Regions from separate parts of the Homo sapiens genome. Here region 2 is linked to region 1. Evidence: fine-mapped expression QTL. Tissue or cell type: esophagus muscle. Region 1 holds a variant in brackets; the other region holds the start of a gene. All regions are shown on one strand. Distances are between the middles of the regions. Region 1 has its middle 100 kb from the start of ZWINT. Region 2 holds the start of ZWINT (ZW10 interacting kinetochore protein).

Region 1 (2,924 bases):
CATACATGCATCTATATACATATAGATATATAAAGTACATTGTTATATAGCACATACGTGTACATAGCATAAAATCAGTTTTTACCTTGAAATTTAACATAAATATCTTCTTATTATTACTATTATTATTTTGAGATGGAATATCACTCTGTCACCAAGGCTGGAGTGCAATGGCAAGATCTCAGCTCACTGCAGTCTCTGCCTCCTGAGTTCAAGTGATTCTCATGTCTCAGCCTCCTGAGTAGCTGGGATTACAAATGAGCACCAACACGCCTAGCTAATTTTGAATTTTTAGCAGAGATGGGGTTTTACCATATTGGCCAGACTGGTCTCGAACTCCTGGCCTCAAGTGATCTGCCCACCTCAGCCTCCCAAAGTGCGGAGATTACAGGTGTGAGCCACTGCGCCCAACCACTATCTTATTATTTTGATACATTGGTACAGCCCATTTACATTAATTATTATTATAGGCATGTTATATCCTAGTTATGCTTGAATATTTTATGTTGTAGTTTTAAGTATTTTTTTCACTTAAGTATGCTATTACATTTTATCTATTTCATGGCATTTTTTGTTTTTAAAAATAATATAATTTCCATTTTTGTTCTACTGGTTAGTTTGTAACTATAATTTGAATCTTTTATCTTCCTAATACTCTCTATATTAGAAAGTAGCTCTCTATACTTATATCTTTTCTTTTTGTTAAATAATTGGTTCTTTGAAAAACTTGCTACTATAAATTATTTAGGATTTATTTTGACAAATTATTTCCAACTTAATAATATTAATTTAAAAATAATCATATGTAATTGAGGTAGTTGGTCTATAATACCCATAGCTGCATTATGTGTTACTGGTAATATCCATTTTACAGTCTTATAAATTGCATTAATTTGGATTTGTCAAGTTATTAATGAGGTAATTTTTTCCTACACTTTAAGAGTAAAATGTGGTATTAACTCAGAAGTAACACAAAAGTGGGGTTATAGCCTGGCTTGGTAATATACTACCTCTGTGACCTTGAATTTGTCACTCTAGTCACAAACTTCAATATTAGATGTGTTGAAAATAGTATCATCTACTTTATAGGTTTGTTAAAATTATAAAATAATGCTGGTAAGTGATATGCATAGCTATGCATATGGTATATATTTTGTTCTCAGAGGATGAGTTATTATTTTAATAACTTTTCTACTATTTTTACACTATTACCTTTATTACTGTTATTATTTATGTCATTCACTATTTGTCTTTCTTGTCTGGAGAAGTATTATGCTCCTTATTCTGTCAGGCTATCATATTGGAATTCTTTTTATTGATTACTACAATTTATTATCAGATTATCAAAATGTTTATATTTACAATACACACTTGTTTCTCCTCCCTTTTAATTTCATTTGGCTGTTGTCTGAACCACATGTTAAAATTGTATAAAAGCGATTAGACTAATGTTTACATTTTTCTTTTTTATTATCTTAAGATCACATGCATATTTATAAAATCCCATCATTTAAACAGCACGTAAAAATCTCCCACTCCATACACAAAAATGTGTTTCACTGGGTATATGTTCTCCGAGATAAAGAGGCAGAGGCCAGACGCGGCACGCCTGTAATCTCAGCACTTTGGGAGGCCGTGACAGGCAGATCACTTGAGGTCAGGAGTTTGAGACCAGCCTGACCAACATGG[C/T]GAAACCCGGTCTCTACTAAAAATACAAAAATTAGCCGGGCATGGTGGCAGGTGACTGTAATCCCAGCTACTCGGGAGGCTGAGGCAGGAGAATTGCTTGAAACTAGGAGGCGGAGGTTGCAGTGAGCGAAGATCACACCACTGCACTCCAGCCTGGACGACAAGTTAGACTTCATCTAAAAAAAAAAAAAAAGAAAAAGAAAAAGAAGACTGTTTGAGCCTTCTTTACAGTAAGGTGGCTCTGTGACTATGTTGTAACAAATGGAATATGTTTAGAAATTATATATCAATATACAAATTATATGCACTTAAGAAAAAGAGTATGTTGTTACTTTTCATTAATCACTGCCTTTTGGCTGAAAGGCAGATTTGAAGGTGGGAGCCTTATTGGGCCACAAAATAAAACTACATATTGAGAATGGGAGAGCAACAAAATAGGAACCCACATCTCTGATGGCCATTGAGCTGACTTCTCCTACATTTTACATATAAAAATAAATATTTATCATATTTAACTACTCATTTGGGGACTCTTTAAACAGAAACTACCACAGTCTAATGTAAGAATAGCTATACCTATTTAGGTGTTAAAGTGTTCATACAGGATTGTAAGGAATTATCTGCAGATAATTTTCTGCTAGCATAAGTTTAGGGGCCTAGGAGTTGATTTAGAAATGAAATCATAGAATTTAGGGATAAGGATTTGTTTTATTTATAAATAAAATCCCCTCAAGTCTTAGTAGGCTTCTTCTAGTTATTTTGCTTTAATCATTTCTGTGTTCAGGAACCCAAGCCAAACATCTCCTTTAGACATAGTTTAGACACTGGAAGTTCATCCTATTTTATTTGTTGTCTATTCTACTTTTTCCCTCAACTTAACAGACGTTAGCTCAAGGCCGTCTGAAAAAAAGAAGAAAGGTTGGAGTGGGAAGACACACATTTTTCCAAAGCCGATCTCCTGGCTATGATTAGAACTGTACTTCCTGCAAGCTCTCTTTCTATCTCTACATTATTATAGCCTCTCAAGAATTTATCAATTCTGCAAACACATTAATTTTTGTGTGTGTCGTGTTCTGTGTCATCCAATATGTCTAGAATTTCTTTTATTATACTTCAGATTGTCATTTTATAATTAGCTAGCATGTCACCTCTTGAGAAGCCTGGTCTGAGTCCTCCAGGAGTATTAGGAGATGTTAACATACCATGTAAGAAAGTGAACTTTAGGGACAAGCAGC
Region 2 (2,924 bases), 100 kb before region 1:
CCACAAACTCAACCAGGATCTTGGCTGGCAGTTCTGCCTCCTCCTGCAGGCCTACAGGTTCCAAGATGCCTGCCACCTCAGCCAGGACCCTGGAGGGGCAAGGAAACACAGGAAATTGCAGTTTCTTGTGGTGCTAGTTCTACAGTTCGTGTGTGTACACAAACAAATGTGGATGTGTATATCAGTATATATAGTATTGAGAGTCTTGCCTTGACCAGAGTTTACACAAGGGCCTGAAGGGTCCACAGCCTGCAACCAGGAATGGCGTGCATGGAGGGCACACGGTGGTAATACGTGCCAAAAGGAAAATCAGCAGGGCTAGTGGATAAGGAGTTTGAGAAAAGAGCTGAAATTTTAAATAGGGAGTGTCTCACTGAAGAGAAATCATTTGAGTCAAGATGTGAAGGAAGCCAGGGAGATATGCAAGGAAGGGGAAGAATGCTGGGCCTTGGGATCCCTCCTGGCGCTGAGCACCAGCCTTGGGGCAGAGTCTTGGAATAGCTGAGAAAGGACTCAGGGCAGAGGGCTGGATGCCTCGGTCTACTCTAGGGTTTTTCATTATTAGGGACTGGAGCAATCTACGAAGGGGCAGGGATGGGGATGAGAAGTGACTGGGAATGTGTCGTGTTGGGACAAGAAGACAGAAGTGAAACCGTCTCCTAGAGCACATCCTGTGGATTATGTGGATGTGGGGAGCGGCGAACGGTCCCCCAAAGGCTGTACTCCTGGAGCAGGCAACAGACACCTCAGGAACCTAAGACGGGACTGCGGTGAGGATCACTTCACGGCAGGGTCGAACCTCAACAGCTGTACAGGGTCGAGGGCACCAATCATTACACATAGGGGCCCACAAGGTCCTCCCAGGCCCGGCCCCAGCTGCCACTTAGCCGCAAACACTTACTCTAGGGCTGCAGCTTCCGCCTCTGTCTCCGCTGCCTCCATCTTTCCAGGCGCCGAGTTCAGCTGCCTTCCCACAATCCCTAAGATTACTTTGAAGTCACAGTCGACTTCGCGCCGGGGCAGGCGATTGGCTGCAGAGGTTAGTGGGCGGGCATCAAGGACCATTGTGCGCTCTAATTGGCAGGCGCGGATTCGCTCGTTGGCGGGCCTCGCTGCTTGGCGCAAGCGCGGTTATGGCTAGGCGCGCACGGGCTCTGCGCCTGCGCGCTAGTCCTTACGCGGTGCCAGAGACTATAAGTGGGCTTGAGCTCGACCGCGCGCCTGTGGAAGTTCTTTCTCTACTCGAAAAAGGGAAAGCATTTCCTTGAGTTTGCGTTTTAAGGGAAACTTACAGCATTGACACTTTATTTAAAATATTCACTACTGCTGTAGAAAAAAAAAAACAAAACCCCGAAAAACAGTGGGGCTGTTTCTAAGACGCTGGGAATCAGTAAAGAATAGTGATCCGGGAGATACAGGAAGCAAATGATCTGCGCTCAAAAAGCGAGCTGCTTTCAAAGATATTAGTATTTTATAGATGCGATGCAGGAGAGTGAACTCAAGCAGAGCCCAGCCGATTGCCTGCGTTGGCAAAATAGAACAGATATTCTGGGGAGACCAAGGTAGGTAATGTTCTTTGCAGAGTACAGGAGAAAGATAACTGCTGAGAGAGAACTTGGTATTCATTCAGCTGAGTACTGAGCAGTATGTGTCTCAAGAAACTAGCTAAAAGATTTTTAAAGATACCAGGACATGGCCGGTCGCGGTGGCTCACGTCTGTAATCCCAGCACTTTGTGAGTCTGAGGCAGGTGAATTACGAGGTCAGGAGTTTGAGACCAGCCTGGCCAACATGGTGAAACCCCCGTCTCTACTAAAAGTACAAAAAAAATTAGTTGGGCGTGGTGGTGGGCGCTTGTAATCCCAGCTATTCGGGAGGCTGAGGCAGGAGAATTGCTTGAACCAGGGAGGCTGAGGTTGCAGTTAGCCGAAATTGCGCCACAGCACTACAGCCCTGGTGACAGTGCGAGACTCCGTCTCACAAAAAAAAAAAAATACATATATATATATATATAAATATATATATATGGACATTACAGAGGGTCAGAAATAGTCTCTATTTCCACTAACCAGGCTGGAAAACTTCATAGTCCGTAGGACACTGGACAGAGTACACACAAAAAAGTCTTGATTTGATAGTTGTTTACTAATTATTTAGTAGGCAGTAATTAGTCCTAGCTGATCAGTGCTGTAGTGCCATCTAACTCTTAAAAGTAAGACCCAAATGGATCAAACTTAACAAACCATGACAGATGACAAGACCAAACTTCAGCAGTATTTATAGAAATAGAAAAATGTTCACCAAAGGTGCAATTTACATATGTCATACAAAGAAAAATTACCAAGCTTGCAAAAAGAAAAAAAAAAACACATAATGAGGAGAAAAATCAATTGCTGATCAGAACTGAAGTAATGTTAGAATCAACAGGCAAGGACATTAAAACAGTTATTGTAACTATATCCCATATCTTCAAAAAGATATCAGAACTATAATGAAAAAGGTAAGTGGTGCTAAGGATGTAAAGAAAGTGGAATTCTCATGTTGATGGAAATGTAAACTGGTGCATAGGCTTTGAACGTAGGGTTACCATATGAGTCACAATTTCATTCCTAGTTATATATCCAAGACAAATAAAAACATGGGGACACAAAAGTACACAAACCTCTATAGCAGCATTATTCACAAAAGCTGAAAGGTAAAAACAACCCAAAGGCCCATTAGCTGGTGAGTGAAAATGCATACTTTCATTCAATGAAGTATTAATCAGTAGTAAAGAGAACTTTATTACATGCTAAATAATGGTTACTACATGCTAAAATATGAACCTTGAAAATATACTAAGTGAAAGAAGCTAATTACAAAAGACCACATAATATATTATTTCATTTATGTGAAATGTCTAGATTTGACAAATCTATAGCAACA

What was found.
Region 2: it holds the start of ZWINT, and the variant in region 1 is fine-mapped to the expression of ZWINT in esophagus muscle (GTEx, PIP 0.97).

Annotation. Positions count from the first base shown.
Region 1 is chr10:56,461,053-56,463,976 of GRCh38, forward strand. No RefSeq gene overlaps it. Among named protein-coding and RNA genes, the nearest start is that of ZWINT, 100 kb to the left of the region's middle. The variant C/T (reference allele first, on the strand shown) is at 1,690.
Region 2 is chr10:56,360,295-56,363,218 of GRCh38, forward strand. It overlaps ZWINT (ZW10 interacting kinetochore protein), which reads right to left and starts at 965. Exons shown (of 9, transcript NM_007057.4): 1 at 902-965; 2 at 1-89. The coding sequence starts at 942. It overlaps LOC124902546 (a long non-coding RNA gene), which reads left to right and starts at 1,165. Exons shown (of 2, transcript XR_007062372.1): 1 at 1,165-1,562. RefSeq lists enhancers at 1-49, 675-1,414, 763-932 and a silencer at 1,023-1,232.